2 separate regions of the Homo sapiens genome follow, and region 2 is linked to region 1. Evidence: fine-mapped expression QTL. A gene starts in region 1. The other region holds a variant in brackets. All regions are shown on one strand. Distances are between the middles of the regions.

What was found. PIP is the estimated chance that this variant, and not a neighbour inherited with it, causes the effect. A credible set is the group of variants that fine-mapping cannot tell apart.
Region 2: its variant is the best candidate, but not a certain one, in a credible set for the expression of GIRGL in tibial nerve (GTEx, PIP 0.82).

The regions. Positions count from the first base shown.
Region 1 is chr7:20,215,651-20,220,053 of GRCh38, forward strand. GIRGL (glutamine insufficiency regulator of glutaminase lncRNA) reads left to right here and starts at 1,927. Exons shown (of 4, transcript NR_134569.1): 1 at 1,927-1,972; 2 at 2,606-2,713; 3 at 3,933-4,106. MACC1 (MET transcriptional regulator MACC1) reads right to left here and starts at 1,734. Exons shown (of 7, transcript NM_182762.4): 1 at 1,649-1,734. RefSeq lists enhancers at 1,559-2,758, 4,178-4,327, 4,244-4,403, 4,338-4,403.
Region 2 is chr7:20,130,329-20,134,731 of GRCh38, forward strand. All of the region lies in intron 1 of MACC1-OT1 (MACC1 3' UTR overlapping transcript 1), which reads right to left. MACC1 (MET transcriptional regulator MACC1) reads right to left here. Exons shown (of 7, transcript NM_182762.4): 7 at 4,327-4,403. Among named protein-coding and RNA genes, the nearest start is that of MACC1-OT1, 7.9 kb to the right of the region's middle. The variant G/C (reference allele first, on the strand shown) is at 2,278.

The sequences.
Region 1 (4,403 bases):
GATGTTTAGTCTTAATAGACACCTAGGCATATGTGTGGTCTTTCAAGAAAGAATTCTCTAAAAATTCAACAGACATGTCTTCAAGTTCAAAATTAGTATAATTCCAAAATGTCTTTTGTCCTCCAAATCAGCCAATACATTTTAAGATAAGATGGTGTTTAACAAACTTTGCCTTAATAGTTTTTATTATCTCTAAAACACAAACAGATAAAAATATTCTATTTGTAAATTAGCTACAAGGAAGTTGAGAAAACTGGAATAAATAATATTTTTGCTTTAAGTTTTAAAAATGAGTCATAACTAAAGCTTTTAAGCAAATTGTAACTAATAATTATGACTTCATAATTTCTAGATTCTGTACACTACCCATGAAATCATATTAAAAATCGCTATTATGAATAAAAGATAATCATGTAATTAAGTTCAGGGGGGCATAAAAGAATCACCACTGAGGTTAAGACAACTTTAAGAATATACCTGAAATTCATCATTATCACCCAGTAATTGCTATGTAAAAACCAGACATTAACATAGATAAGTCAATATCAATCCTAAATTAGACCCACTGAATATAGACTTAAGACATTTTTAGGAAATTAGGAAGACCTTTAATAAATGGAAGGCATTGGAATTTTCACTACATGCTTTTTGATCTTAAAAATAAATTTTTTAAAATCTATCTTTATTAATTGTGGTAAAAAACTTAACATACAATTTACCATCCTAACCATTTGTAAGTGTTTACACTTACAAATTTTAAGTTCAATAGTATTAAATATATTTACATTATTGTACAGTCTCCAAGTGTTTTCATCTTGTAAACTGAAACTCTATATCCATTAAACAACTCTCATTTCTCCTTCCCCCAAGCCCCTGGCAACTACCATTCTAAGTATCATTTATGTGAGTTTGACTACTCCAGATACCTCAGGTAAGTTGAATCATCCAGTATTTGTCTTTTTGTTTCTTTGGTGTGTTTTCCAAGCTTAATTGAAACTTAATTAGGATGAAGCCAAGTTACCCTCCATCATGTATCATCTGTCTATTCAGTACAATGCACTGTGCTAATTTAATGACCCCCTTAACTTAATTACATGATTATCTTTTATTCATAATTTAATGCTATTAACCTAATGAGGTAGGTTATGCACACACACTTTACAGATGAGGAAACTGAGACTTTGCGAGGTGAAACATCTTGTCAATGGTCATAAATCTAATAAGCAGTGGGGCTGCTGATTGCAACTTTATCTATCTTCAAAGCACAGTCTTTTTAACATACCTGTATGCTTTTTGAGATATTTAAAGTTTTTAGGGGATTTCAGCCATCTACATATTTTAAGCAACTCATAGAGTGTTTTGTTTTTGCCTTTGATGGTTAATGTGACCTGGGTTCCTCCTTTTTTTTAAAATAAACTACTTTATTCTAAACCATGTCTCAAGGTATTATTCTATTCTATGTCATGAGGTTTATTCTAACACATGTCCCATAAGCCCACAGAATACCAGTTACCTTCCCTTTATTTAAGCAGGGCTTGATTTGTTAAGCAGCTGGTTTGTTACATTTTTCTGGAAATTATACAACTTCCTAGTGTGTAGCACATATCAATAGTGAAAGGAATATTATTTTTAAAAAATCAGCACTTACATTTGTGGAAGTGAGCCCAAGCTTCTTCAGTTCAGACACATGGTTTTAGTGAATAGAAGTCACTCTACCAAACCCGGGTACTCTTCAAACATGCCTTGCTCCGTATGCAGGCAGGCAACTGCACCCCTGCTTCCTGAGCCACCTGGGACTTGAAGTTCTACCACTGTGGCTCCAAAGCTGCCCAACTAGAAACCCCAAAAGGCAAGAGAACTACGATACCCACAATTCAGGCTCCTCACCCGAAACCAGAAGAGGGCGTATGGCTAGAGTTTCACCCTAAGAAGAAAGGGGAAGCAGGTGGAAAAGCAATTAAAAAAAAATCAGGTGAGTATATCTAAGAACCATCTGTAAATATAATCTTATTTCCATGAAAGGAAATAAAAGTGGTTTAATGTTTGCCAGGGAGTAAGAAGGCACCCTCAGTGTTAGCAATAAGTAAAAAATATTTATGCAAGCAAATCCTCATGCAGCTGGAACTTGCCCCACCAGATTCTCTTTCGGTGATTCAGAGCTGAAGGTGCCTCACTGCCCTGTGGAACAGGTGAATAAAGCCTTCCCAGGTGAGTGACAGTGTCTAACTAGTTCCCCCTTTCCCTCTACATCAGCACTGTGATTGTCACTCAAAGACATAGACATATAGACATAATGGAGACCTTTTGGCATTTCATCTTCTAAAATGCTCTGGATTTTTAAGATAACACTTTAAAATGTGCCTTTTAAAATATAAGCAAGAATAAAGTTTTCTTGATATTTTCTTCCATTTTACTTTCCATTTCTGTGTTTTGTGTTTTCCTTCTGTGTATTTTGTTCAAAATTCAAGAAAGAGAAAATTAGGGGAAAGGGGAAAAAAGGTAAAACTTAGTGAAATGAAATGTGCAATAATTGTTTCACATTTTTTTCCAACATCAGCAACAGAGAATGTTTAAAACAAATGTGTTTCTCTATTTGTTCATACAGCATCTCTCTCTAGCCTATTATCTCCTGTTAGACACAGCCCAGAAAATGAATAGAGACAAGTCCTGGCTGGGTCTGGGTTCAGAAACATAATAGAAGGATTCATCTAATGTAAGTAGATGGCAGAATGGTGACAAAGAAAAAGTTTCCTTTCCCTTTTCTGCACTTTCTCTCCTACTGTTCTAACCACCCCTTCCTCCCTGATGCATCCCTGGCTTCATGCTGCCAGATCACCTAATCCACCCAGATTCCCTTTGAAGTTTCCCCTTGACTCATCCCACAATCCAAACTGAGCTGTTCTGTTTCTTTTTGTCACAGGTTCCTCAACTCTCTACTAGAACCTAGCTTTCCTTTATGTCATTATATTATTTCCAAAACAAATGGTTCTTAATTTCCCCAAACCCTACAGAGGGCATTCTGCATGGCATTTCTCCTCCCTGAAACCATTTTTGCTCATCTTGAAATGTTCAGAGATTTCATTTTTTCCAAAGCTCAATGAAAAACACTCTTCAAGATGTCCTTCTCAGTTTGTCTTAATCTGAGTTATTCTCTTCCTCCTAATCAATTTCATAATATTGCATCTGCTCCTCTCATAACACATTGTATATCTCATTTCATTGGTTTACATGGGTGTGTGTGTACCTATGCAGTCTTACATTCCTATTTGAAGGCAAGGCCTCATTGTATCCCTACTTCATTAACTCATTAATGTACAAGTAGATGTTTGTGATAAACAATCAACACATAAAATAACTGAGATGTTAACTCTAAGGTGTGTGTGTGTTAATGCCTAATGCCATCTTTATGTCTCCCGGAAAACATTTACATTTAAAAAGCTACCTAAATGCCATGCATGAGTACTGTTATCAGAATCCCCCTGCAGTCTGGTCTGGTGTGGCTCCCACAGCCTTTATTTGCAGAAAGGCAAAGCATTAAATCTAGCAATTGAACCCTTGACAGTACCCGAAATGAAAGCCCTAGTGGGTCAGCACTCACTGTTTACCAGCTCCAATCCCTGCTGTGCACTTGCCTTTCTAACAGCTCCCCAAGGACTGGGCTCCCTAGAGTCCTCAGTCCCATGGTCCTGGAAACCTGGCCCTACCTCTATCTATGATTTTTGATTATCAGCTCCAGCATTTATGGATCCCTTCTCCTATTATCTAATCTACGGGCTCTAAAGATTAAACTGTGCACTTTGGACTATTTAAATAGTTCTTAACCACTGATCTCCTCCCTCAGGGAAGGGAATTCTTTCCACAGTTGCTAGTTCCTCACACCTCTGCCTCTATGGGATTCTCCTGGTCCCCACATGCTCTGCTGTGTCTTCTAGCTGTCGGCCACTGTGGAGGAAGTGAACCTTCTAGATCCTGCTGACTCATACAATGAGTTTTGTGTGGACCATCAGACAAAAGGGCTGGCTGGTGAAGGTGGCTGTTGTCTGGAAATTCCTCCCAGCTCTCCTCTAATTATGTCATAAGGACTGGAGGCCCCTTAGCCTGCTTGTGTGAGTATCACCAGCTATGTAAAGTTGGGGCCTTAGCTCATCCTCAGCACATGGCTCAGGATCACTTCCTTAAGAAAGTCTCTTCTGACCTCCTTACCCCTACCATGTTTCTTGTACTGACTTACGCAATGGTCACAACCAACATAGAAGCTGAAATCCCAATGACTCACTGTCCCAGCTGCGCTTGTAGATAAGGGAGAGGCAAAGCACTTAGAATGGCAATCAGACATGGCTATCTGGGACCAGGAATTAGGAACTGCTGACACAAAGAAGCAGGGACAGAAGAGAACTCACTCT
Region 2 (4,403 bases), 85 kb before region 1:
CCAGAAAAAAGAGTATTCCTTTTCTGCAGCACTTAAATCCTATACTGGCAGCAATGAAAACCCAAGGGAAATTATCTACAAGTATGAACAGACAGTCCTCAATTTATTTACGAGTTCGACCTACGATTTTTTTGACTTCACAGTGGTGGGAAAGCAATACTCATTCATTAGAAGCCAGACTTTGAGTAAGTACCCATACAACCATTCTGTTTTTCACTTTCGGTATAGTATTCAATAAATTATCTGAGCTATTCAACACTTTATTATAAAATAGGCTTTGTGTTAGATGATTTTGCTCAACTGTAGGCTAATATAAGTGTTTTGAGCACTCTTAAGGTAGGCTAGGCTAAGCTACGATGTTCTGTAGGTTAGGAGTATTAAATAAGCTTATTTTTTATTTATTTGTTTTGTTTGTTATTGTTTCTAGAGATGAAGTCTTGTTATGTTGCCCAGGCTGGGCTGGAACTTGTATTACCTACACCAATGTTGTTTACCATTAGTTCCCATAAGCAGAGTTTGACTCTTTATCATGCCTGAATTAAAAGAACAATGGCAGTTCCAGCTGCGTAGTTCTATCATCTTACTGTATTTCAGATCAATCCGTGGCTTTGGAATGTCCCTCATTTCTCAGGCATTGAGGATTTTCTGGTGATAGAGAAATAAGGGGGCAGAAATTTTAAAAGGCTCATTGCAGGATTGTTTAACATGCATTTGAACGAAGTAGTTGGTTTTAGTAACAAAAAAAACCTGACTAAATAATTTTTATTATGGGCTGAATTGTACCCTCCCTCAAGTTCACGTTGAAGTGCTAACCCCTGGTACCTAAGAATGTAACCATATTTAGAGGTAGTGTCTTTCAAGAGGTAACTTAAATGAGGTCACTAGGTGGGCGCTAATCCAGTATGACTGGTGTCCTAAAGAGAAAAGGACATGACACATTGACACACTCATAAAAGGAAGAGCATGTAAAGATACAGGGAGAAGACGGCCATCTTTAAACTAAAGAGAGAGGCCAGAAATATATTCTTCCCCACGGCCCTCAGAAAAATCCAACCCTGCCAAAACCTTGATTTTATTTCTAGCCTCCAGGATTGTAAGAAACATTTCTGTTTTCTAAGTCACTCAGTATCCCCCTTATCTGCAGGGGATACATTCCAAGACCCAAGGTTGATGCCTGAAACCACTGATGGTGCCAAACCCTGTGTAAATTTTTCCTACACATACATTCCTATGATAAAGCTTTAAGAAATCAACAATAATAAAATCAAACAAATATAACAATATACTGTAAAAAAAAAGTTACGTGAACATGATCTTTCTCTCAAAATATCTTATTGCATTGTACTCACCCTTCTTGTGACAATGTGAGATGATACAATGCCTACATGATGAGATGAAGTGAGGCGGATGAGGTAGGCATTGTGATGTAAATGGAAAATTCCAGAAATAAACAATTCATAAATTTTAAAATTGCATGGCATCCTGAATAGTGTGATGAAGTCTCACTCTTTCCTTTTCCGTCATCACTTAGTACCTATCTTGGTTATCAGATTGACTGTCACTGTTTCCTTGTGCTTGTGTTCAAGGAACATTTTTTTACTTAATATTGGCCCCAACGTACAAGAGTAGTGATGTAATATTTTCAGAACGGGGATGGCCACAGGTAACTGAACCCATGGAAAGTGAAACCACAGATAATGGGGGACTACAGTAATGCAGTTTTTTACTAGATAAACACAGAATATACTAAGTGGTCAAAACAGAGCTCTCATTAAAGATGGATTTAAAACTTTGCTCGAGACAGGAACCCAGGGTGGGTGGATTAATTACATGCAGTGGGTTTGCACCTGTTTCACTGGAACCTGGACTCTTATTCCTAAGCATACAGTAACTTCTCAGCAATCAAAATAGAAAGAAATATAGAGCTTTTCTAACAGCGTGAAAGGATATTTGATTTTCCTTTTTCTTCTAAACTATCAGTGAAATCACTTGAAAATAGATTTAGGAATGTAATATCAAGTACTTACTTATCTTCCTCTTTTAAATAACCTTGATCACTAATCTCTTATTTTGCCACAACCCACACCGTTCCATTCAACCTTGAAAAACCTAATATCCAATTTCATCCCAAAGAGCATTTCTCTATGTACAGCAAATTATGAATATAGTTGAACAAACATTAAACAGGAACTATATATTAAGGAAAAAATGATCATGGGCTCCTAAAAATAAAAAGACAGGATTAATTCTATGACATGTTGACTATATCTTAATAAA[G/C]CTGTTAGGTATTTTAAAAAAGAACAAACACACCACCATTGTTGGTGGTATCCCTTTACATTTTGCCCTATTTTTTGATGATGTCTTGGAATCATGTAATTCCCTTCAATTGCTGTTGCTGTTCTACTTTCCCCTTGGGCAACATTTTGGGGTTATTACTCAGACAAAAGAAGAGATAAAGATCTCCAGTGAAAAGTCAGATGGCTGAGAAAGGTGAAATACCACTGAGCTTGGACCCCGCTTTCCTAGTTTCATTCAGGAAATGTTTGAAGGAATTTGCCATGGTTGTTTTTCACCAGCAGGTCATGACACTCGATTCTAACCTTACAATTTTCACAATCAAGCATTCTGGGAACTCCTTCTCTGTCCCTCTCTTCCCCTCAGCTTCTTTCTAGCAGTAGGTGAAGTGCATCTACTACATTATAGGTCCTGCTTGAGAGTAATTGAAGTCACAGGAGATCTGCCTCTGGTCCTCTTAGGCCAGGTGCCCCTGTGGCCTTGATGGGGTTGTAGGTGGTTTTGTCATGTCATCAGCAATTCGTAAAGTGGTATGTAGAGAGCAGATATTGCCAGTGAAGTTCCATTTACTTATCATTTGATTTATTGCAGAAGTTTATAGAAAAGCAGGCCCATTGCCAGTCTCATACTAAGGACTCAGAAAACTAGCTTCTTGAATTGCACTTGAGGGAGAAAGATTTCCTGAGGCAGCAAATAGTGCTGAGGCTAAGTGATCCTCTCGCCTCAGCTTCCTGAGTAGCTAGGACCACGGATGTGCACCACCATGCTCAACAATTTTTTTTTAATTGTATTTTTTGTAGAGATGGGGTTTTGCTGTTGCCCAGGCTGGTCCCAAACTTCTGGCCTCAAGCGATCCTCCTACCTTGGCCTCCCAAGTGCTAGGAATACAGGCATGAGCCACAGTGTTTGGCCTGGTCTTTTTACAAATGGAAAACACAGTATCTTTCCTTCTTTCTCTTTACCTGATCTATAAAAAGATACAAATTAACTGTTGTTTGCTTATCTCCTGGATGGATTTAATGCTATCTAAGACTGTTTTGTAAAACACCAAAGAAACTTCAGCTAGAGCAAACGCAGCAGCCCTACATCAAAATTGTCATTTATCGGTCTTTCGAGAGCTGGTGTCAGAAAACCTATTTTAAACTGGATTAGGCACAAAGAATTTGTCTCTCACAACTAAAAACTCCAGGAGGCAGTTTCAGGCATTCCAGTATCCAAGGCTTGAAGAGTGTGATCAAACTTGTGTTTTGTTCTTGTTTTGTTAGTTCCCCTACCTATATTTGATTATATTAGTTTCATCCCTGGGCTCCACAAAGCTGCCCAGCAGCTCTGGGCTTTCCCTTTATGGTAACAACATGGCTGCAGCAGCTCCATCCTCACCTCTCCTCATGTTCCAGTTTCAAGGTGACATGGCCTTGTAATTTCCCCTGGGCTAAACTAAATAGTGTTTCCCAGGGCTTTCTTCACTGAGTGTCTCTGAGTGTTGCTGATTAGAGTTGACCACAGAGAAATCTATGTAAGATTTGTAAGGTCACATTGGAGCAGGAGCACTGTTACTCTTGGAAGGTGGAGGTAGGTCAGGCGATCATTGCACCACTGCACTCCAGCTTGGGTGAGACAAGGAGACCTTGTCTAAAAAATAAAATAAAATAAAATAAAAATAAAAATAAAAATAAAAATTCCAACACAAAGAGAGGAAGACAAAGTTTCCATTGTCATGAATAGGCAGCCTTCTTTCTTTACACCGTAATTGAACCCTTCCCTAGCTCCACTTCACCCCTTTCTTGATTTTTCGTCATGATATAAAACGTCTGAGTGAGCATTGAGTATGTATTTCCTGGGAGTAAACCCAGAGAATGGGTTTTTCTACTCTGATAAGAAAGGGCGCAGTAGCTGGTTCTATTAGGTCATTTAATCTAATATGTGTAAGATCAGCATTACATCAGACTTGCCAATTCCAGATTCTGCTTTAAAGAGTGAGTTTGGTAGAACCAGTTTAGGTAAAAACAATAACTTAATCATAACTAAAGATTTGATTTTTCAATGACTCACTCTATTTTCATGAACAAGTTAAATGCCCCAGTAAATTCCATGTATTGAGTTTAAGT